2 linked regions of the Homo sapiens genome follow. The protein of the gene in region 1 interacts with the protein of each later gene in a pairwise test. Each region holds a gene or a part of one and is shown on either strand. Other genes may lie near its edges. The genes, in order: TRAPPC10 and TRAPPC8.

What was found.
Region 2: the proteins of TRAPPC10 (region 1) and TRAPPC8 interact in a two-hybrid assay, tested with the Homo sapiens proteins (one study listed by BioGRID).

Annotation. Positions count from the first base shown.
Region 1 is NC_000021.9:44,075,583-44,088,342, reverse strand, and holds part of TRAPPC10 (trafficking protein particle complex subunit 10), read right to left. Parts: intron 11,895-12,760; exon of another isoform or gene 11,792-11,894; coding exon 11,715-11,791; intron 10,651-11,714; coding exon 10,559-10,650; intron 8,780-10,558; coding exon 8,639-8,779; intron 8,329-8,638; coding exon 8,216-8,328; intron 5,556-8,215; coding exon 5,041-5,555; intron 4,222-5,040; coding exon 4,080-4,221; intron 3,756-4,079; coding exon of another isoform or gene 3,645-3,755; intron 1,542-3,644; coding exon 1,383-1,541; intron 645-1,382; coding exon 415-644; intron 1-414. UniProt on the Homo sapiens protein: Specific subunit of the TRAPP (transport protein particle) II complex, a highly conserved vesicle tethering complex that functions in late Golgi trafficking as a membrane tether.
Region 2 is NC_000018.10:31,867,612-31,880,371, forward strand, and holds part of TRAPPC8 (trafficking protein particle complex subunit 8), read right to left. Parts: intron 7,094-12,760; coding exon 6,869-7,093; intron 5,928-6,868; coding exon 5,819-5,927; intron 3,510-5,818; coding exon 3,315-3,509; intron 2,892-3,314; coding exon 2,761-2,891; coding exon of another isoform or gene 2,749-2,760; exon of another isoform or gene 2,746-2,748; intron 1-2,745. UniProt on the Homo sapiens protein: Plays a role in endoplasmic reticulum to Golgi apparatus trafficking at a very early stage. Maintains together with TBC1D14 the cycling pool of ATG9 required for initiation of autophagy. Involved in collagen secretion.

The sequences.
Region 1 (12,760 bases):
CACCAAAGCCTAAAATGAGACAGCTCCTCCGTGGCTGAGCTTATGAGTTTCAGTGGACAGACACCGAGGCACACACGACACAGACCTCCTCTGGCCTCGTCACCGGTCTAATGGACATGACCCAAGTTTTACGCCCCTCATGCCTAAGCCGGCCCTAACCTCTTACAGCAAACTCCCTGGCCCCTGGAACTGAGAGGGAAAGGTAGAGCTGGCTTGTCTCTGCCCTTGCAAAAAATGCACCCCTTATCTAAGAAAGGGTGATTCACAGACAGACAGAACTGCTAAACACATGCCCAGGGCATCGGGAATCAGAAGGAGCCAGGCTAACAGCAGGCATCGCTACATCGCCTTTCCCAGCAGGCAGGCGGGCGGCGGACGCCCCACAAGCTAAGCTCCTCCACTGTCCCTACTCACTTTGTGGTCTGTGGTAACCATGCAGCGGCCAGTTCTCTGTTTGTCCTTATGCTTCCTGTGGGGCTCTGCCATCCCCAGCATGTCACTCTCCCCTCCGAGTGCTGGGGCTGAAGGTAAAGAGAGAACTTCCAGTTCAAATTCGATCACGTGGTACGCAGGCGCAACAGGCAGACTGATGCTCGTGACCTTGTCGGAGGACTGAATCCGGAGCGCGGCCTCAGAAGACTGTTCTACGAAGGACAGAAAAAGTCACTTCAAAGCTGTTCCCTCGGTTTCACTTGTCCTTTTCCTTACAGCAGGTGATGGCCCAGCAGTGAGGCCACTGCTCAACCTCTCCCGCTCCTGCGCACCTGGCAGGCAAACCCAAGAACAAGGCCCCTAGGACAGAGCAGCCCTGTGTGAAAGCCGGCAGGCAGGCGCCCAGACCCATCATTGATCTCAATCTGAAGAGAGGAAAAGGGCATTTCCCACGGGGCCCACCCAAGTCCTGTGTAGGTCCCTGCATGACTTTCTCCCGTTCCAGCTCATCCGCAGATCCACCCCCACCCCAGGGGAGCAGGGTCCTCCCCTTCCCCTTCCTCGTGGCTGGGAGGATGGGAGTGCTCAGGGCTCTCAACAGCACCTGCAAGGGCTGCTCTGCTTTTGCTTCTCGGGAGCAGGGCCAGCCCAAGGGGGACAGGGTCTGGCAGGCATCACCATGGAACGTGACCCCAGCCGTGACCCCCATCTCCTAATCCTCAGCCAGACAAGCACTGCTCGGCCACTCAGCGTGTGAACCACTCTCAGTTTATCACCTCAGATGGGACCCCAGCACAGGCATCAGGCCGCAGGGCTCCTATGGAACACGGACTCCAGACACTGTTGAGGGGCGCTCAGCAGGATGGCAGCAAGGCCAGGCTCACCCTCACACCCACACAGTGCAGGGCAAGGTGGGCATCCTCCTTGGGCCTGGGTGGGCGGCACCTCACCTCTCGTGTTGGAGTAGACCACAGCCCTGCTCTCCGCCTGGCACAGGATGAGCATGGCTTCGGCATTGCTAAGCTGCAGGCTGTCTCCATTCTTTATCGTATAATGGCCGGTAGTGACAGTGAACTTGACTCTCTGAGGAATGCCTGCCAGAAGGCTATCTAAAGGAAAAGAGATCGTGGCTCAGCACCGCTGCCAACCGGAAGACAGCATCTCAGGGCCCGCAATGGGGTGAAAGGGGCTCTATTTCTTTTACTATGAAAGATTTGCTCCTTTGGGATCTCCATGAATTCCTTCTACTTCCATTCCCTTCTGCCCTAACTTTTCATCTCAATGATGTGGACTACAGGGTTGAAGGAGAACCTTGCTGGGGAAAAAAGAATCCTGTGAGTCAAGGAGTCTTATACCCATCTTGGTTCAGCAAGTCAGGGATTATGATCATGACTACGTCTCTGAGGGTCACAAAATTTGCCTGCCCATTAGTAGTAGAAGAGAATCACATAATGAGGCTTAAGAAGAGACTGTAAAGAAAACTTGACTGTGCTGGTGCTGCTCAAATATTCAAAACCTTCTCTGGATTTTTCAGCTTCAGGCCACGGGCTTTTGGGTTAAGAACAGTCAGCAGTCAGGTGGCTCCCCCTCACTCCAAGACAGCAATGAGAGGCAGGAGTGAGCTGAGGCCTCTGAGAATCCTGCTGCAGGGAAGACAGAAGGCAGGCAAGATACCAGGACCGGGGGGAGAGTGGACAGAGACAGGGGACACTAGGCAGGAAGCAGGAGCCAGGCCATGAGCCTGGCACTGCAGCCGCTGGGCCATGGGGAGGGCAGGGCCTGCTGGCTGGTGCTTCGGCTCCCCTGCGGGAATCGAGTTCAGCTTCTCTACACAATGTTCCAATGGAAGAATCACTGGAGAGACTGACTGCTGTGTCCCACATCTGACAGCCTTTGCTGGTGGCCACACAAGAGGCACAAATGCAGAAAAATAGGGGGAATGGGGGAATAACAGAAAAATGCCCTTTGTGATTTTTTTCCACGTAGAAGAAACAGGCAAATAAATAAATCGTTGCTAGCCCGAACAAAGGAGACATTCACTCACTCTTGTTCAGCTGCCACATGTTCTTCAATCATTTGTTTATAGCAACTCCTTCCAATTTTAGAACTTATCAGAAAGGACAATAGCTTTGAATTTCTCAAATGCCATGCCAGACGGACAAGTTTAATCAACCCTTTCAAAGGAAAACTTTTTTTTTTTTTAAGAGATGGAGTTTTGTTCTGTCACCCACGCTGGAGAACAGTGGCGCAATCACAGCTCCCTGAGGCCTCAAACTCCTGGGCTCAGGAGGCTGAGGCAGGAGCCTCAGCTGGGGCTCCAGCCTGTAGCTAGGACTAGAGGCCGTGGCGCACGACTACACCCAGCTAATTTACTTCATTTTTTTATTTTGCAGAGATGGGGTTTTGTCATCCTGCCCCGACTGGCTTACCCATGCTGGTCTCAAAGCCTTGGCCTCCCAAAGTGCTGGGATCTGAGTATAGATCCTAACTAAATCTAGTGTTTAGCATTTGAAACGTACTTCTAAGCAGGAAATTATATACATATTTATGAAACCCTGTGGTAGACATTAGCTGCTTCTTGGCCTAATGTGACACTGTAAAATACACATGTAGTTTTCAACCCCATTTCCAGGCATACTAGCTCCCAAATTCCTTAGAATCTCCAAAGTGATGTCTTTTTGTAGGCTAATGAGTTGATTGGAGGCTGGCAGCTCCAAGGTAGCTTCAAGATGAGGACTGGTCACCAGAATGACCAGGGCAGGATTAGAGGGTCGGGCCTTTCAGCAGTGGCACCCAACCTCCAGGGAGGAAAGAGGGGCTGAAGGTCGAGTTGCTCATCAGTGGCCAGTGGTGTAATCGATCATGCCTGTGTAATGTCACTTCCATAAAAACCAAAGGACAGGGTCTGGAGAGCTTTCAGGCAGCTGAACACATGGAGGTTCCTGGAGGGTGGCGCCCAGGGAGGGCGTGGAAGCTCTGCACCCCTTTCCCCATACCTCACCCTCCACACTTCTTCATCTATATCCCTTATAATAATCCAGTCAACCTGTTTCCCTGAGTTCTGTGAGCTGTTCTAACAAATTCATCAAACCCAGAAAGGGGGTTGTGAGAGCCCTGATTTCTAGCTAGTTGGTCAGGAGCACAAGCAAAAGAACCCTGGGCTGGTGGCTGGCATGGGAAGGGGGGGACTGTCTTGGGGACTGAGCCCTCACCCTGTGGTGTCTGACGCCAGCTCCAGTAGACAGGGTCAGAACTGAATTGCAGGACCGACTGCTTGCTTGCTGGCAGGGGGAAATCCCTGCACATTTGGGCCCAGAAGTCCTCTGCATTGACCATTAGGTTGAGTGAGCCAATAGAAAAAAATACCTTGAGTTTCTTTTTTCCACTCTCAGAGCTAATTCTTCTGTGTTTCTTATTTTCAGATACACCATGTTTATTAAACATGAAAAAGCAATTACAGGAAAGCAAACATTCAGATAAACAAAAGAGGCAGTCAGCTAGTTCCCAGGCAAAATTTCCATTATGTTACCCAAAATATCTCTTAAAGGCAGACACAGCTAAAACTTATGAGAAGCCTGGCATCTCAGCAGGTCTCCTCAGAACTGCCCCAGCAGCACGCCTCCTCAAAGGCTGGGGACCCCACTCACCAGCCAGCGGCTCCACGTGCAGCTGGGGCTCCTGTGAGTACACGTCGTACTGCACAATGGGGTAGATGTGAGGGAGGACGAACCACACGGAGCCCACCGAGGCGCACAGCTGCCTGAGTGTATACGTTCCAGGTTCCTTGGCCTAGAGTCAAAGAATCAGGCATTTGAAACCACGTCACCCAGTTTTGCAGTTAGCTTCCTGCGGTAGCGCGGTGCAGCGGTCTCTCTGAACTCCAGAAAGGCCTGTACTTCTTTCCCTCTTGTACCCCCTGCTCTTGTGCCTAAACCTCTAAGCTTGGGCTCTTCACAAGGCCCTCAGAATCTCTCAATTCGTGATTTTCTGAGTAACTGATGCTTAAATTTAACTTTAATAAGGTATTTTCAACTTATCTAAACTGTATTTGTGGCATTGTAGAGACATTCAGCACGAGATTTAAGCCCTGCCCTAGACTAAAAAATGTGACAAATAGCTGTACTTTCCACAGGCCAAATCCTGTTGAGTTAGTGGAACTTACAGGATATCCTGTGTCAGAGAAAACTTTATGTTAGAGTGGGTGAGAAACACCAGTTTTGACACCCAGCCAGCCACAAAAGGAAAATAAGTTTGAGTGGGAAAGTGTACCACCTTCTTTGAAAGCTCATTTTAACAAATGAGGGTGTGTATTTTCATATGCAGGGGGGAAAGCTAACTGAATCCAATAATCCAATGAGTTAAAAAGCTAACTTAATCTAAGAACAAATATCTACGTTAAGAACTTCACTCAGAATTTATCAAATGTCAGAAAATTGTATAAAACACGAAAGAAAACATCAGTGTATTTTTGTATAAGGACAGAGACAAAAACAGGGTTAGGAGAACAAAGGACTCTACTCAATTCACAGCACACTCCAGACAGTTCTTGTAAGCTCCACGGCCCTGCTTTACAAACTTGAAAGTCAAGTTCCCACCCTGAACGCATACCTGAGTCCTGAATGTTATCTGGTTGGCCCCTGGTTCCAGGGTCACGTGGCTGCACCTCAGCACGTGGGCACCCTCCTCCAGAGCCACCCCTGAGGGCATCTCTAGAGAGGAGCTGCTCTCCTGCCTTCTCAGGAGCATGTGGACGTTTCTGCAGATAATCCCAGTCGTGTTCAAGGAGTTATCAGATGGGCTTCTCTCAAACATTTCATACAACTCCAGCGCGGGCAAACTGTTTTGGGATACAGGGAAAGGTGCGGTCTCGGGTGGAAAGTTAATGATCCCATTGGACGTCTTGTGCTTGGTAAGCCACTCCGCAGTCTTCCGGTAGCTGTTTTTCTCAATGCTGAAGTGGACATTGACCACAATCTGCTCCACGTGAACAGGCACAGGCATCTGGCTGTACATGGTTATCTCAACGCACAAAACGCCGCCCACGTGGACCACGGCATTGGAGGGATCAAAATGGAGATCTCGCAGTTGTGCAAAGGAATGCATGGGTAGCACTATCTTATGACCTGTAAATAGACATTATCGTAAGTGACTCCCCAAGTCACACTTCCTGACAGTAAGCAGCAGCAGGCCGCGGACACAGTAAGATCACCGAGAGCAGACTGAAGCAAGCAGCAGTGATGGGCACAGCAGCTGAGCCCAGCCTCCTGCCATCTTCACACCCCCCAAAGGCTATTGTATCAAAAGCAGAATATTAGCAAATACCTACGTAATGCCTAGAAATCATAAAATGTACAGAAATTAACCTTCTCAAGTCTGCTTTGACAAACCTAAGAGAAATACAGGTCAACTACCTCTCAATTTCAAACGACAATTTGTAAATAGTCCAATTTCTACAGCTATTTCCAAGGGATTCCAATATTTTCTCACCTACTTAAAAACATGCTCAGTGAAGATGCCCAAGTGCCCTGCTGTGATGTGGAAACAAACCCCAGGTGTCTGCCAGTCTACAAAGTCAGCCGATTAAGCAGGACCCCTCTGTGCCCCCAGGCCCAGGATGGCAGCAACCAGCCAGGTCTACAGTTGCTGCTGGAATGAGAGCCTAATGCTCTCTCTGGGCCCTTCTCTCTCTGACCGAACTGTAAGTACCTTGGTTTTGTCTAGAAAATACACAAGGCTGCAGAAGTGACCAGTTAAGTATTTATTAAATATTCATCAACGAAAGGACTTGCCAAGACTGATGCCATAGATCATGAGAAACAGTAAACGATTGTGGAATATTTTATTCGTATAGAGATACCAAGGAACGTTGGCAGGAACATCACAACTCAAATAGTCTCAAATACAAAGCAGCAGCAGATGTGGTCACGGCTCTACCAACAGTCAGCTTGGGCGCGTTAAAGACTCCACAGACTAACGTCATGATGCTCCCGAGAAACCCACCCACATGGATCTTTTGTTGTCCCCCTTTCTTTGAGACAGGGTCTCGCTCTGTCGCCCAGGCTATAGTATAGTGGCACCATCTTGGCTCACTACAGCCCAGTTCTCCTGGGCTCAAGCGATCCTCCTACCTCAGCCTCCTGGGTAGCTGGGACTACAGGTGCCCGCCACCACACCTGGCTAATTTTTTGTAGAGACAGGGTTTCGCCATGTTGCCCAGGCTGGTCTCAAACTCCTGACCTCAAGTGATCTGCCTGCCCCGGCCTCCCAGGGCAGGCAGAAGTTCCTAGAAGTTTCAGGGTCAGGTTGATGTGGTTATTGACTGCTGGGGTGTATTCACTTACAAGCATCTGGGGCCCAGCGTGGTGGCTCACGCCTGTAATCCCAGCACTTTGGGGATTACAGTATGGGGTTTCTTTTTAGGGTGATAAATATGTTTTAAAATTGACTGTGGTGGCCAGGCATGGTGGCTCACATCTGTAATTCCAGCACTTTGGGAGACCGAGGTGTGTAGATTCCTTGAGCTCAGGAGTTAAAGACCAGCCTGGGCAATATGGCAAAACCATCTCTACTAAAAATACAAAAATTAGCCAGGCATGGTGGTATGCTCCTGTAGTCCAAGCTACACAGGAGGTGGAGGTGGGAGGAGCAATTGAGCCCAAAAAGCAGAGGTTGCAGTGGGCTACAATCATGCCACTGCACTCCAACCTGGGAGACAGAGAAGAAAAAAAATAGCTGGGTGTGGTGGCCCACACCTGTGGTCCCTGCCACTCAGGAAGCCAAAGTAAGAGGATCTCTTGACTCCAGAAGGTTGAGGCTACAGTGAGCTGGGATCGTGCCACTGCACTCCAGCCCAGGCAAGAGAGCAAGATAGTCAAAAAAAAAAAAAAAAAAAAGAAAAAAAAAAAGAACAATAATATTGACTGTGGTAATGGTTGCACATATTCCTGAAACAGACTAAAAGCCATTGAATTATAAACTTCAAATGAGTGAATTACATGGTTTGTGAATATCACAATAATGCTGTTACATTTTAAAAAAAAAAAAAAGCACCATCTTAAAAAATGAAGAAAAAGACTGGGTGCGGTGGCTCACATCTGTAATCCCAGCCCTTTGGGAGGCTGAGGTGGGTGGATCACCTGAGGTCAGGAGTCTGAGACCAGCCTGGCCAACAGAGCAAAACACTGTCTCTACTAAAAATACAAAAAATTAGCAGGGCATGGTGGCGGGCGCACGTAACCCCAGCTACTTGGGAGGCTGAGGCAGGAGAATTGCTTGAACCCGGGAGACGGAGGTTGTGGTGAGCTGAGATGGCACCATTGCACTACAGCCTGGACAACAGAGCGAGACTCTGTCTCAAAAAAAAAAAAGAAGAAGAAGAAAAAGAGATGGGAAGAACTTTTTTTACATTAAAAGAGAACTGAGATCTAACAACCACATGTAATATGTGATATCCTGTTGGACTCCATTAAAAATGATTTATAAAATACTTTAAGACAATTAGGGAAATATGAATATGGCCTACTTAGCAGATGATATTAGAACCTTATTAATTCTTTGGGTGTGGTTAAGAGACTGTCCTTATTTTTAGAAGATCTAATGTGGTCTAGAGTTTGACTTAAAGCAAAAATAAAAAAAAAAGTCAGGTGAAAGACATAGATACATGTCAGCTACACAGCAAAATGTTAGCAACTGTTTACTGTAAGTGGTTGGTATATCTTGTATTCTTTTTTACTTCTGTAATATTTGAAAATATTCCTAGTCAAGTTGTAAGAACTGGTCTTACCTGGGCTGTCTGACGGCTGGCTGGCAAAGTCAAGTATCTCCTGGCAGAAGTGCTTGCGCTCCTCTTCAGTGAGGTGGTGGTCACTGGCTAAGAGGCTGCTGGTCTGCAGGTAGCTGGAGCGGAGAGGTAAGGAGCGTGGAGAGGCTCATACTTAGGAGTGCGGGGGGAAGTGGATGCAAAGTCTCCTACGGCCTTCACAGAGGCTTCAAAAGCCAAAGGGCTTTTTTTTTTTAAGTTACTAGGGCTCAAAATTAGATTATAAAAAATCGACTAGACATTTCATTCATTTTCTATACAATACATATGTATAAGTTAGGACTTTTCTCTCCTTAATAATAGGTGTGAATGAAACATTGATTGTGGGCAATGTTGCCGTATAAACAGAAAATAATTTTCCTGCTTCATGAAAACATTAAAGGATACTTTTCAATTTGTCCAAGGTGCTTTTGACATTCGGCCAGCTGCTTCCTTGTGTGTGTGATGGGGAGTGCCCAGCCCTCAGCCAGGTAGTTTTTCAGTGCTCCTTGAAGATAGATTTCTGCCTTTTGTGGAGCCTTTTTCCTCCTTGCAAAGTCAACAAACAGTAGCTTTCATTACAGCTAGGGATAATCAACACACTGAAACCCCATCTCTCCCGCTTTGGCCTCCATCCTCCAGACCCCATGCCAGGACAGACTCAACATCTCTAGATAGCCCTTTTCCACCCACCCCACTCCGTGAGAAAGAGTACCTACTCAGGACGACATAATTAGACTCCCAGGCAAAGATCTGAGAAATGAGCGTGTGGTGATAAGAGCACAACACATCGTTGGTCTGGCTTTATACACATGTCGAGGAACTTTCATAGCTGAATCTCAGGATAAGAAAGTGAGCCTATCATTCATGATCTCAAGCTGACAGGCAAGAGGGCCAAGGCTAAGAGAAGGTGAAGGAAGGGCTTGTCCACAAGTACACTGCTAGTCAGCAATGAAGCCAGGAAGTCCAAGTATGGGTCTACACTACCTACTAAAGGCACAGAAACACAGAAGCAGTCTACAGGGCGCAAGCGGAAGGGAGCACAGAGCCACTTGGAAACTCAGGCAAAGAGCACTCCACAGGATCCAGCTTCCAGAGAACGCCGGAGAATTAAAATAGCCACACTTGGCCCCCAAAGCAAAGTTTAAAGCACAACTGTTTTTTTTAAAGATGGGGTCTTGCTCTGTCACTCAGGCTGGAATACAGTGGTGTGATCATAGCTCACTGCAGTCTCAAACTCCTCAGCTCAAGTGATCCTCCCGCCTCAGCCTCCTCCACTGTAGCTGGGACTACTGGTGTGTGCGGCCTTGCCTGCCTTTAAAATGCAAATTAATAAGGGCTTGTCAAAGCCTCAGGAGCAACAAGGATCCCCTCCCCTTTCCCGAGAAGCCTCTCTGCTTCCTTAAGGAGCACCTTCCTCTTCAGATACACAGCATGGAAGTTCAAGAGAGCTACATTCTAGCTGTGACTCTGCTGTTAACCAGTGGGTAATCGGCAAAGCTGCTCCAACCACATCCGGAAAACCAGAAAGTTCACTTAGCTGATCTAAGAATCCCTTTCCAGCCAATTCACATCAGTTCAAATCAATTCTCATTTCTTGCTTCACCTAATGAAATCACTTGAGTACAGATTTCAAGATCTCATTTCAATCACTTTTTTTTTTTTTTTTTTTAGAAAATGAAAACAAGCATCTTTTTCCTTATAGCTTGTATCTCCTTTGAGTACTCTGAAATGGTAACCACATGACCCACTGGGGTTTCTTCTCTTTGATAGTCTGATTTTATGAAACACACCAGAAATACGCTAAATTTTGAGTTTTTCTGGAATCAAACTTCAAAGCTGGAGCTGGAATGGAAACCCTGCAGTCTTTGTACACACCTTCTTCCAGTCATCCCTAGATCATCCCTCTTTCATGAACCTGACACATGCAGTAGCTTTACATCAATGGCCTTGAGGTTTTTCAGTCCTCTTAATACTTGATAAAATTAGAGAAATGCTATATAACAAAATATGTAAGAATCTATATGCCAATTTACTCACCATTATACTGTCTTATAATTCTTTAATTAAACTTAGTTACAAAAATGTATATATTTAATTAAATAAAAGAACCTCAAAGACCAATAACAGTTATTAAGAGTAACAAGCAGAAAATCTCTCCATCTGGTTTTCAGAAGAAACTGAAAAAAAAATTATGAGGACTGGGTAAGAGAATCTACACTTTTCAGTCTACAAATTTATGTGCACTTTATACTAACTCCATATATAACAAATCTTCTCGTGTTATTTGTATGTTTAGAATTCAAAGAAAAGTACAAAATCAATTACATGTAAAACTCTGCCAGATCTTTTCCAACAAACTTAGCAGATCGAATCCTCCCAATGCTTGTATACATTTCAATGGTGGCATGGGACAAATCCTGTGGGGAAGTAAAAACACAATTATGTACTTGAACTTTTAATGATGGACAAATACTACATTTATTCACCTAAAGCTCACACAAAAGACATTGTTGGGTTTTTGTTTTGAGACAGAGTCTTGCTCCATCGCCCAGGCTGGAGCACAGCGGTGAGATCTCAGCTCACTGCAACCTCCGCCTCATAGGTTGAAGTGATTCTTGTGCCTCAGCTTCCCAAGTAGCTGGGACTACAGGCGCCACCAGGCCCGGCTAATTTTTTGTATCTTTAGCAGAGACAGGATTTCACCATGTTGGCTAGGCTGGTCTCAAACTCCTGACCTCAAGTGATCCACCTGCCTCAGCCTCCCAAAGTGCTGAATTACAGGCGTGAGCCACCATGCCCAGCCCGCAGAAGACATTGCTAATAATGTAACATTATTTTTTCCTTTGCATCTATTTTTGTGAATTTTTCTGTAATATATAAGCAAAATTGGTAACCTGTGTATAAATTATGAAGCATAATAATAAAAGAAACCCACAAACTCATCCAAAACATCTAACTTTTCCAAGGACTTTCTGCACGTGGGTGACATGCTGGGTATTTTTCATACTTGTGTGTATAAGAGGTACAGCCATTACGGGCAGACCAAACGCTCAAGTTGCCCATGACCCGGGAATGACGCTGACCCACCACACTTCTGCCTACGCCGTTTTTTAAAGTTTTGCTAATTTAAGTCTTTCAAAATCAAATACAATAGCTCTGCCCAAGTCCAAATTACTCCTTTTTACAAAGAAAAGTATTCACTAGCCTCTCTTATAATTTCTGTGTGAGCAAACCCAATTTGAACAAAACGGTAAATATTCAAAGATGATTCCATGCCTAGCATGGTACCATGGGCACTAATACACATTTGATGAACTACTCCATGTTTTGTCCACAACTCCCCAGGTACCAAAGAAACTAAAAAAAACCAACAAGAAGGGGCCCCCCACACCAGTTCCTTCCCAACTCAACAGGCCATGTAGCAAAGCCTTCTAGAGACAGGTATTCACAGAACAGACATTGAACACTTGTTAATACTTACTAAGTAGTGTTTTTCAAAAGCTTCCACTGACGATAATGCTTCTTTCAGTTTCTTATAAGGACTCTGAGCTGTGTTGGCTTAAACAGAAAGAAACGAGAGTCCCTCTTCATCTTCATCATGTCCAGTCACATGACTTTACATTCACCTTCACATACTGCAGGTAGATGACCTCATCTGACTCTTGTGAAATTACAAACCGGCCAATGCCAACGGAAACTACATGATTATGTACATTCTCTTTCAATTCACATATTCATAAAATAGTCAAAACGCTTTGTGTCATGCTTTTTCTCTGATCTTTAGAACTAAACTTTTTTAGAAACATATATTACAAATACTCCGATGAATTAAATTACTTCCGAAGTGATCTGAAATGGTCTCAAGTTGAAACAATGAAATATAAATACTACGTATTTTTTCCCTTAAACATTTATTCAATTTACTAAGAATGTTTTCAGCTCATCAGATATTCTTTAGCAACAGTCTTGCTAAATAATACTCATCATATATTCCTACGTAAAACAATGAGTAATCCTCCTTTCAAAGAGCCTTATTATCCAGGAGAATTTTTTTTTTTTTTTGACAGAGTTTTGCTCTTGTTGCCCAGGCTGGAGTGCAATGGAGCAATCTTTGTTCACCACAACCTCCACCTCCCAGGTTCAAGCGATTCTCCTGCCTCAGCCTCCCGAATAGCTGGGATTACAGGCATGCACCACCACACCCGGCTAATTTTGTATTTTTAGTAGAGATGGGGTTTCTCCATGTTGGTCAGGCTGGTCTCGAATTCCTGACCTCAGGTGATCCGCCCACCTCGGCCTCCCAAAGTGCTGGGATTACAGGTGGGAGCCACCGTGCCCAGCCAATTTATTTTAAAAAATTTGCTGGGAGGCCAGGGCAGGAGGATCACTTTAGGCCAGGAGTTTGAGACCAGCCTGGGCAATACAGCGAGACTCCATCTCTACAAAAAATTAAAAAATTAGCCAAGTATGGTAGCACACACCTGTAGTCCCAGCTACCTGGGAGGGTGAGGCAAGAGGATCCCTTGA
Region 2 (12,760 bases), on another chromosome or scaffold:
TCTACACAAAGTGTTTTTATTTCCACAACTAGAGTAGACCCAGGCTGTAGTAGGCACTCAATATATATTTTTTTCATTTTGTTCAGTCCAATTCAACTGAGAAGGATAAGCAATCGATTCAAAGATGCCACTATCCACATGCCTGTAATCCAAGCTACTCAGGAGGCTGAGGCAGGAGAACCGCTTGAACCCGGGAGGTGGAGGTTGCAGTGAGTCAAGATGGCGCCACTGCACTCCAGCCTGGGTGACAGAGCGAGACTCTGTTTCAAAACGGGAGCATATCAAAGATACCGCCACCAAGATAATAAAACCCTGAGAGAAAATACCTAGCTGCTCATAGTCAACAATGGCCAAATGGTCATTTAATTTAATCTTACAATAATAGCAAATTTCTTCTTTTGCTCTGACCAGCCTCTTTTTCAAAATTGGTCAATTACATAGAAAAGATAATGGTGGGCTAAGCATGATAAAGAAAGACAGGTAGACAATAACAGCAGTGGGAGAGAAGGGAAAAAGGCCTGTTTCCCCCAAAGCAATGACATTTCTCTGGTCATGTAGCAAAGCAGAGCTAATTGGCTCATACTGGAGATAAACCTGATCCTCATAAACGCTATTATACTTTCACCATGACATTATTTAGCACAAGAAACAAAAAACTCCCTACATTCCAGTTCAGCATCTTAGTCCATCACCATCTTAGTCCATTTTCTTCATTTCTTAGTCATGAAAAAATCCAGAGTTTGCAATTTATAGAAAAATATTATTTTAAGAAACACTTCATCATACAAATGAAAATATTCACTTAACTTTAAACCTCCTTTAAAATCTCCCATATTGAACAGACTAATATACTTAAAAAGCTAATAAATCTTTTTAAAAAACGTTTCCAAGTTTAACCGCTCATACTGAGTATTCCAGGCACCCAAAAGATTAGAAAAATTGCAGAAGTTGCTAAAATTCAAGTCAGAATACAGCCTGGGAAATCTCATTCAAATTATTAACAATGAATATAAATAATACAAAATATCTTTGACAAATTTAACCAGCAAGACTTATTTATTTATTTATTTATTTTTTATTGTTTGTTTACTTGTTTTGTGGTTTTTTTTGAGACAAGATCTTGCTCTGTCTCCCAGGCTGGAGTACAATGGCATGACCTTGGCTCACTGCAGCCTCAGGTTCCAGGACTCAAGCAATCCTCCCACCTCAGCCTCCCAGGTAGCTGGGACTACAGATGTGTACCACCACATCTGGCTAATTTTTAAATTTTTGTAGAGATGGGGGTCTCACTATGTTGCCTAGGCTAGAGCAAGACTTAAAATAAGGCAATCTTGAAAAAATCAAAACACTTGAGCACCAAAATGCTGGGTTATTTCCCAGTTCCAAAATCCTTTTTTTTTTTTTGCCACATTATTAAAGCATTTAGCAAGGTAGTATAAAAAAAGCAAGTTATATGATAGATACTGGTGACTAAACTAATAAATTAGTAAGTAAATATATCTATTTGTCCAAGTTATTTCATTTACAGTCAGGTGGGTATTAATAAAGAAACTATTTGGCCACATCATTTCTGCTTCAAAATTAAGTATCTTAGATACATAAAGGACTTATTAGACACGGAAATGAAAAGAAAAAAATATAAATGAGGTTTTGAATAGGCAATTCACAAAAGAGGAAAAACAAAGAGTTTCAACTTCACCAGCAATCAATGAAATGGAAAATAAAACAGTTAAGATGGCATTTTAAAAATATCAAATCAACAAAGTTTTTAAGTTAATACTGCTTACTGTCATAAAGATTAGACACCCAAACCCATATGCTGCTTAGTAAGAAGCTCATTGGTATGAACTTTTATGAAACCAGCAGGGCACTACAATACTTTTCCCTAAAATCTTCACTTCATGCCCTGGAATCTTCCCCACAAAAATAATCTAAAGGTAAAAAGCCACACACAAAAAAGTGCACCACAGTATTACCGTGATAGTCAACAAATGGAAACTTGCCAAAAAACTATCAAAGATAGTAAAATAGCTTATGAATCACTCATATGATGGAATATTATGCAAAAATAAAATATTAAGACACTTTGATATCAGAATACGCCTATAAAACAACACAGAATGTAAAAAGCAACATACACAGTATGAAGGAATCCCAAATATGTGGGAAAAACATACAAATGAAAATAACTGGAAGGCCGGGCGCGGTGGCTCATGCCTGTAATCCCAGCACTTCGGGAGGCTGAGGCGGGAGGATCACGAGGTCAGGTCAGGAGTTCGAGATCAGCTTGGACAACATGGTGAAACCCCATCCCTACTAAAAATACAAAAATTAGCTGGGCGTGGTGGGGTAAGCCTGTAATCCCAGCTACTCAGGAGGCTGAGGCAGGAGAATCACTTGAACCTGGGAGGCAGAGGTTGCAGTGAGCCGAGATGGCGCCACTGCACTCCAGCCTGGGCAACAGCGTGAGACTCTGTCTCAAAAAAAAAAAAAATAAAAACAAAATGACTGGAAAGATACACAGCAAAATGTTAAAGTGGTTATTTCTAAATATTATGAAGACAGATGGTTTCACTTCTATTCCTTATGTTTTTATGTATTTTCAATTTTCAAAAATAAGTACATATCATAATTTTTATAACTAAGGAAAAATAAACCAAAAAGAAGTATAGCTCACTGAACAGAGTACATTGAAATGTTACTACAGCATTTGTTAGGCTGTAGCTGAAACATAATTACAAATACCTTTTAATAACTTACTAGTTGTTTAACTTCTTCATTATCCTTTCCACTGAAATCTTTAGGATGAAACTTCCAAAGCAATGACAAATCAGTCAACAAAAGTAGAACTTTCAAAGGGTTTCTAAAAGCCACTTCCACTGTAATTGGTTCTATTAAAAAAAAGGCCTAAATTAATAACTTTAATAAACATCACACCTCATTCTCAGCTTCGATCTTCTAAATGCATCTTGCTTTCATAGCTCTGCATTTCTGCCTAGACTGTCCTTTATTACCTTATAAATGTCCACGTATTCAGGATTCTGTTGTAATACTACATTACCTCCTTGAAAAGATTTCCCCAATTTCTCTGTACTAAAGAATGCCATTCCCTCTTGTATATTCCAACATCACATTGCAAATAGCTGTAGAAGAGTCCCCCTTGTCTGGTTTTATAAATGCAGCTCAGTAAATTATGAGTTCCTAATTTATTTTTGCATCCCCAGCACCAATTATGTGTGCCAAACAATAAATTATCTTCATCATGCTGTAAGTAAAACAAATAAAAAACAGAAATAAAAATTCAAGTATATCACCTTCTACAACTGCAAGTGGAAATCTTGAATTATCTGAGTAACTGTTCAAACAGTATTGTGTGGGATGAAAATTGGATGGAATTACTCCTTTGTTAACCACAGAAACAACTTGTTCCTCAAGTTCTCGCCACTGCTGAGAGGATTCAGAATCATATTCTTGATCAAGACTTACATGAGTAGCTGCTTGTTTTTCACCTAAAAAAAATTTGTTAACAACACGTTTATGAAGACTTGCCCTCAAATAAAACATATTTTAAATAGACATAAGGTACAGAAATAAAAAAATATATATATATACATTCACTCTTGCCTATTTCTAATTCTGAGTGAAAAATATCCTCTCATTAATCCTAGCTTATCTGGATTTTGCTTATAATACTGATGTTCTTTTCCTCCTGACTCTGAAAGAATGTATTTTCCCTCGTGTCCACAAGCAATTTTTATATAAAACATTTCAAATATACAGAAAAGGCATGGAGACTAATATAACAAATATTTGTATACTAAAATTTAACAAATGTCAACTTTCACCTATGATCCCAAATATTTTTAATAAAAAAAAAACATCACAGATAGAGTCGATGTCCTCTCTGCACCACCCCCAATCTTATTACTCTCCTTCGCCCCCACTGGCATCACTTCTTCCCAGAGGTATTCCAAAGTTAAAGTGTATCATTTTCATCCATGATTTTACCACATAAGTATATCTAAAAAATGCATAAAATTAGTTTTTATGTTTGAAACTTATACTGTAATTGACTCTTCACTCAGCATCAAGTTGTGGGAAATGTAGAATTAGCATGAATTCTCATGTACTGCAGCATGAATCCATTATGTGAATATACAAAACCATATCAATTAATCCTCTATTAGGAATTCTATTTCTTTCACTCTTTTGCTACTACAAACAATGCTACTATGAATATGACAATTTAAAAAAAAAATACTAAATCGTATCTCAAGGAGAAACGTTGATTAAATTCAAATATAAGAATGTTTAGAATGACAAAGTTTAACAGCCATCGAGAGCTTTAAAATATATGCATTTATATAAAATATATTTGTATAGATTTAGGGGGTACAAGTTATGTTTTGTTATACAGACATATTTTCTTGGTGGCAAAGTCTGGGCTTTTCGTGTAGCCATCACCCAAATAGTATACATTGTACCCATAAGTAATTTCTCATCCTTCATTCCCTACCCTCCCAAGTCTCAATGTCTATGTGTACACATTATTTAGCTCCAACCCCAGTTATCGATGGGAGCATGTAGTATTTGACTTTCTGTTTCTGAGTTATTTAATGTAAGATAATGAAGAGCTTAATATATTTATACTTTTGTTCCATTATTGCCATTCTAGGGTTCAATCCTAAATAAATCATCCTGCATTTAAAAAAAAGTCTTACAAGAACAGCAGAACATTGGTAACTGTTCTTTACTTCTATGTACATTTGAAAATTTCCATAAGACATTTAAAAAACAAATTTTATCTACAAAGATGTCCATCACAATACGATTTTTTTTTTTTGAGACAGTCTTGCTGGAGCGCAGTGGCGAGATCTCGGCTACTGCAACCTCCGCCTCCTGGGTTCAAGCGATTCTCCTGATTCAGCCTCCCGAGTAGCTGGGACTACAGGCGCATGCCACCACGCCCAGCTAGTTTTTTGTATTTTTAGTAGAGACAGGGTTTCACCATGTTGGCCAGGATGGTCTCAATCTCTTGACCTCATGATCTGCCCGTCTTGGCCTCCCAAAGTGCTGGGATTACAGGTGTGAGCCACCACACCCGGCCACAATATAATTTTATATAAGCAAAAGATGGAAACAGTCTATATATATCAAGTGGATGTTAAAATAAAGTACTTTATAAGCACTGAATAGAATATTTTACTAACATTAAACGTTTATGAAGATTATATAATAACAAAAGCATTCTTTAAGTGAGAAAAGCTGTTGTAATTACAACTGTTTTGTTTTCATTTCATTGTTTTTAGTTTTTAAAGCTGGAAAGAGAAACACCAAAATAGTAGTTATCTTCAGGTGACAGGACAAAAGAAGTAATAGAGAGCTATTCATTTTCCTTTTTTTTTTTTTTTTTTTTTTTTTTTTGAGACAAAGTTTCACTCTGTCGCCCAGGCTGGAGTGCAGTGTCGTGATCTCAGCTCACTGCAACCTCCGCCTCCCGGGTTCACGCCATTCTCCTACCTCAGCCTCTTGAGTTGATGGGACTACAAGCATGTGCCACCACGCCCAGCTAATTTTTTGTATTTTTAGTAGAGATGGGGTTTCACCATGTTAGCCAGGATGGTCTCGATCTCCTGACCTCATGATCTGCCGGCCTCAGCCTCCCAAAGTGCTGGGATTACAGGCATGAGCCAATCGTACCCGGCTGAGCTATTAATTTTCAAATATTCAACTATACATCGTTTTTTAAATGGAGAAAGGAAAAGAAGTTTTTTTTAAATTGTCATTAGGTAATTAGGCTAAATAAAACTTTACTAACCATCCGCTGGTCGTCTGTCATGGCCAAAAAAAACCCGTGTTGCTGAACTGTTAATATACGGTAAAGGAAGCTGTGGCAAAGGACCATCTGGTGACAGCTGACTTACATTCTGAGAGAAATATAAAAGGGAAAAAAAGTAGTTTTTGTGAAAATGGTATTTTTATTTGTTTCCTCGTTTCTTAATACACAAGGCATTAAAAATATGTTAAGCAAGAATATTAAGATATGTAATTACTAGTTTTATTTCTCATATCAGTCATAAAATTTTACAACTCAGAAGCACTTCAGATATTTATTCTGCCTCAAAAGAATCTTACTGAGGTTACTCAGCTAATTACCTGGATGTTAAATATGCAAAACTTATTTTAGTAAGCGTTTTACTTCTTATGACTCATTATAGCATCCTATCTGCCAAAATTCTAACCCATATAATTTCAAATTAATAAAGTCTAGACCCTAAAGGTAGTTATTTTCTGCACGATAGATATAATATGCACTATTCATAGGCCTTGGGAAAAAATTTACAACTTCCCATTTTTTCCATAAAACAATGCTTTATATGTTTATCTGCTTGCCTCAGTGAAACAGTCCTTCTTCCTGTTAATTTTTCTCCATTGCACCATAATAGCCTGTCTACTTTCCACAGATCCATACCCCCTCATCTTTCACAAGGAAAAGAACATAGAATGTCCATCTCCAAAGGATGGTAAAGAGAACCCACTTAAAACCAACTGTAAAATCAGTTGTGAGTCTATAAAAGCATGATGAATAAAGAATCCAGAAAACCTGTGGAATCTTTTTTTTTTTTAAGATTCTAAGAACAGCCACAAATCAAGTGTTCATTGTAATATTAAAATTCTCTTTTCAAGAACTGTGGAAGGGGCAATGTAACCAAGATCTATAGCCAAAAAGCCTAGCCTGCCACAGCTTTTTTATGACTGATAACTACATATATTCTAATAAAACTATCGTAAGATATGGTAATAAATAAATACTTTCACACTAAAATACAGTTTTAATATCTATTCCTGAATGAAAATAAGCAGTCACCTTGTAAACATAAAGATATTCTCTGAGGAAAGCCCCCTGTTGAGCAGCAGATTGTTTACTTTCATTAATTAGAATATGCCTAAAAGCAGACACAGCATTATCCAGCTGTCTAAGAGTATAGGACTGGCGCCCAATAGTGAAATTAATGTGATCCTCTGCAAGAGACCAGCCTTTTCCTTTGTAAACTTGCATGGCTTGACAATAACAGCGTAAAGCATGCTTTTTCTGTAAGAAAATAAACAAAATAATGTATTATACTCCAAATTTGTTTGAACTAGAAAAAACAAATACAAACACACACATAGAAACAATTAAGTAACTGGTTCTTCCTCTAAGGGGGACTGGGATAATGAAGAAAATAAAACTAACATTTATGATAATCCCTTCACAATTATATATGGAATGATATAGATAAAGTTACCTGAGCCATTGTGTGTGTGCGTTAGATAGGAGTAGGGTACCTAAAGGAAGAAAAGGGAGGCCAGACTGCTTTGACATTTACCCACTACTTCTCTGAGCCACAATTTCAAAACGTCAACTTCAGAGGAAAGAGCTTACTTCTCAACTTGACTTTATCTACCTTAAATTCTTTCTGGAAAAAGGCAAGGGATATGTAAACAAACTTCAACATTTAAAATGGTCAGATTTCACTAATATGATGATGAAAAAAATGTTCTCATACTTTAACTAGAAGCATGCTATGTCTACAAAGAGTTTCTCCATATTAAGTAAAACAATAAACACATTTATCAAAGTTTTTTCTTGCCTACGATCAGAGACTTACATTGAATGTATGTGGCCACATATGCCACAGTTTTCCACAGTACAAATAATATATAATAATATATATAGTAGTATATATAATAATATATAAATAAACTTTTTTTTTCTATATTAAAAATTCACATACTGGACCAACCATGCTGATCCCAGCCTGCCTGCCTGCCTGCCTGCCTGCCAGAACTCACTGGCCAGTGTTGTGACCACTGAAAGGTTATGCCTCACACGGTTCAAATAAAGCAGTGGGCTAGGACAGCAGCACAGTAAACACTGCCTGGGCAAGACATGACGGGGTTCTCTGCCAGCATCAGGTGCTACCACAGCCTCCTTTTCAAGGTGCTGTTGGCAAGTGTCAGGGCATACTTCCTGGTATTCAGTGCATTTACTGCAGGACTTAAGAAGAGCAAGAGATTAATAATATACCAGAATGATATACAAGATGTGTGTTCAAAATGGAAAATTGCAAGGAATGCCAAAATCTTACAAGTATTGCAATAAGAATGCAATATTTGTGGCAATAAACATCATCAATGTAAAAAATCAAAAGAGGTACACAGAAAGACAGATCCTGCATGTTCTCACTCATATGTGGGAGCTAAAACAGTGGATTTCATGAAAATAGAGAGTGGACTGGTGGTTACCAAAGGCCAGGGAGAGTGGGTGATAGAGAATGAAGTTGATTAATGGGTACAAATACATGGTTTGATAGAAGAAATAAGACCTAGCGTTAGACAGATCAGCAGGGTGACTATAGTTTACAACCATCTACTCTACATTTCAAAATAGAGAATTTGAATGGTTCTAAGGTGATGGATATCCCAAGTTCACTGACTTGATCTTTATAAATTATATGAATGTATGAAATTATCACGTATTATACCCCAAACTATGTATGTTTATTATGTATCAATTTTTTTAAAAGGAGAGTATTTTCTTCAAGATCGCTTACAGCCGGGAGGGGTGGCTCACGCCTGTAATCCCAGCACTTTGGAAGGCTGAGGCGGGCAGATCATGAGGTCAGGAGATTGAGACCATCCTGGCTATCATGGTGAAACACTGTCTCTACTAAAAATACAAAAAATTAGCCGGGCATGGTGGCGGGCGCCTGAAGTCCCAGCTACTCAGGAGGCTGAGGCAAGAGAATGGCATAAACCTAGGAGGCGGAGCTTACAGTAAGCCAAGATTGTGCCACTGCACTCCAGCCTGGGCTACACTGCGAGACTCCATCTCAAAAAAAAAAAAAAAAAAAAAAAGATCACTTACTAGGGACCTCAGATCCTCAGATGCCAGTTCTCCTCAGAAAGATCAAAGTAACTAATTATCCAAACAGAAAACTGAGAAAAGACAGCCAGGATATGATGAAGAACCCATGGAAAGAAACTAGAGTGCAGGAAAGAAAAACAACAAGAGTTTGGCAGGGATCGAGTGCTGAGGAACACAAAACCCCATGGAAAGGGTAAGTGGGAGTACTTCTCTGCTGCCCTCACCCCTCTGACCATCTGTTCACCATCCAACTGATGGGGAGTCCCTCTGCCCTCATGATGCAGGACAACACTAACAGTGGCAGTTTGAGAACGTCCCAGGGACAAGGATGTGGGTGGCCAGCTCACACAGGCATGCCCGCCCTCCTTTCAGGCCTGAACTGAGACAGGAGATACCACTGCCCTGCCCAGGAAATCTCTGCTCTTGAGTCACCACCGCACCACCAGATCCCTAACATATTCACAACTGCTGTGACATTAGCAAGTTTAGGAGACCAGTGGGTCCCCAGAGAAGGTGTGAGACCCATGGAGATGTAACCGTTAATTTAGGCTGCCCCTAGGGGAAGGGGGGACAGTAGCCTGCCAAAGCCCCACCTTGAGACAAAGGTAATGCAAGCAAGCAACAATCGCTGAAGTGGGCAGCCCCAGCGGCTGGAAATGAACATGAAGAGGGGATCATTTCCCGCCCACCCCATCCACTGTTGTGAACACAGGAGAGGTTCTCCCTGCTGGGAGCTGGCAGACGTGTCCTTGGGGAAAGCACTTTTCATGCTTTTTGTGGTGGCTCCATCACAGCTAAAAGTGAGCCTGGCCGGGCGCGGTGGCTCACACCTGTAATCCCAGCACTTTGGGAGGCCGAGGCAGGCAGATCACAAGGTCAGGAGATCGAGACCATCCTGGCTAACACGGTGAAACCCCGTCTCTACTAAAAATACAAAACATTACCGGGGTGAGGTGGCGGGCGCCTGTAGTCCCACCTACTCGGGAGGCTGAGGCAAGAGAATGGCATGAACCCCGGGGGGCGGAGCCTGCAGTGAGCCAAGATCGCGCCACTGCATTCCAGCCTGGGCAACAGGGAGACTCCGTCTCAAAAAAAAAAAAAAAAAAAAGTGAGCCCATGGCCAGGCACGGTGGCTCACGCCTATAATCCCAGGCACTTTGGGAGGCCAAGGCGGGTGGATCACCTGAGGTTGAGAGTTTGAAACCAGCCTGACCAACATGGTGAAACCCCGTCTCTACTAAAAATACAAAATTAGCCAGGCGTGGTGGCGCGTGCCTGTAATCCCAGCTACTCGGGAGGCTGAGGCAGGAGAATCGCTTGAATCCAGGAGGCAGAGATTGCAGTGAGCCGAGATCGCACCATTGCACTCCAGCCTGGGTAACAAGTGCAAAACTCTGTCTCAAAAAAAAAAAAAAAAAAAGTGACCCCATGCCAACTGGGCTTGCAGGAAGGGCAAGGCCCAATTCCCCCTCCCTACAGAGAAGCATCCGGGCAACAGAAGGTGGACAAGCTGCAAAGCTGTTTACTCTGTACTAGAGGAAGAAGTTCCGCCCTGAGCCCATTTTGGTGGCAGCTGCCCGTTTTGGTGGAAGTGTACTCTGGTCAGAGCCTAATGGACAAAGTCTACATGAACTGATGGTTGTGAGCCCTCTGACCGGGGCGTGATAAGGAAGCTTCTGTCTGCTCAGGATGAGCAACTGGTGCACCCCATCCCAAAAAGGATCAAATAATCTATAAAGTAAATATTATCAGACTAACAACAGACTTCTCAGAAGAAACCTTACCAACAAAAAGAGATTTGGGGCCTGTTTTTACCCTTTTTAATGACAAATAAAAACAAAAACAAAAAAACTACTAGCCAAGAATTTTACAGCCTGCCAAACTAAGCTTCATAATTGAAGGAAAAAATAGTATTTCTCAGACAAGAAAATGCTAAAGAAATTTGTCACCACCCGACCAGCTCTACAAGAAATGCTCAAAGGAGTTCTAAACACGGAAACAAAAGGATGATACCTGCTAACCATAAAGATACACGTAAGTACAAAGTTCAAAGATCCTATAAGGCAGTTATACAATTGGGACTACAAAGCAACTAACAACATTATGACAAATACAAAACCTCACTTATCAATATTAACTTTGAACAAAAATAGCTTAATTGTTCTACTCAAAAGACAAGATCCAAGCATATGCTATCTACAAGAGACCTATCTTCTGTGTAACGAGATCCACAGGCTCAAAGTCAAGGGGTGGAGAAAGATCAATCACGCAAATGGAAAACAAAAAAGAGCAGGGGTTGTTATTCTTGTTATCAAATAAAATGGACTTTAAACCAACAACATAAAAAAAAAGACAAAGAAGGGAATTATATAATGATAAAGAGTTCAATTCAACAAGAAGATTTAACTAGCCTAAACATATACACACTCAATACCAGAGCATCCAAATTTATAAAACAAATACTACTAGACTGAAGACAAGACAAGCAGCCATACAGTAATACTGGGGGACTTCAACACCCCACTGACAACACTAGACAGATCATCGAGGAAGAAAACTAACAAAGAAACTCTGGAATTAAATCGGACTTTTGACCAAATGGACCTAATAGACGTCTACAGAAGATTCCAACTGACAACTACAGGATATACATTTTTCTTATCTGTGCATGGAACATTCTCTGAAGTTGACCATATACTGGGTCACAAAGCAAGTCTCAAAAAATTTTAAAAAGTCAAAATCATATCAAGGATCTTCTCAGACCACAGTGGAATAAAATTAGAAATCAATACCAGGAGGAACGCTCAAAACCATACGAGTACATGGAAACTAAGCAACTTGGTATTGAATGACTTTAGGGTAAACAATGAAATTAAGGCAGAAATTTAAAAAAATTTTGAAACAAATGAACACAGAAACACAACATATCAATACCTCTTGGATACAGCAAAAGCAGTGTTAAGAGGAAAGTTTACAGCACTAAATGCTTATATCAAAAAGACAGATCTCAAATTAATAATGTCACATCTAGAGGAAACAGAAACAAGAACAAACCAAGCCCAAGCTGGCAAAAGAAAAGAAATAAAGATCAGAGCAGATCTTTATTCTTTAAATGAAATTGAGACCAAAGAAATCATACAAAGAATCAACAAAATAAAGTTATTTGAAAACACAAACAAAATTGATGAGACTACTAGGCAAGATTAAGCAAGAAAAAGAAGAGATGATTTTAATAAGCACAATCAGATATGACAAAGGTGACATCACAACTGATACCACAGAAATACAAAAGGTCCTCAGAGAATACTATGAACCTCTATGCACACAAACTAGAAAACCTAGAGGAAATGGGTTAATTCCCAGAATCATACAATCTCCCAAGACTGAACAAGGAAGAAACTCAAATCTTGAATAGGTCATTAAGTAGTTACAAAATTCCATCAGTAATTAAAAAAAAAAATAAATAAACAACCAAATGAAGCCCAAGATAGCTGGATTCAAAGCCAAATTCTACCATATGCACAAAGAAGAGCTGGTACCAATTTTACTGAAACTATTGAAAAAAAAAATATATATATATATATATATATATATATATATTTTTTTTTTTTTAAGGAAGAAAGATTCCTCCTTAACTAATATCATCCTGATATCAAAATCTGGCAAGGACATACACACAAAAAGAAAACAAGTCAATACCCATGATGAACACAGATGCAAAAACCATCAATAAAATACTAGCAAACCAAATCCAGCTGGACATCAAAAAGTCAAATTAATCACAATCCAGTGGGTTTTATTCCAGAAATACAAGGATGGTTCAATATTTGCAAACCAATAAATGTTACT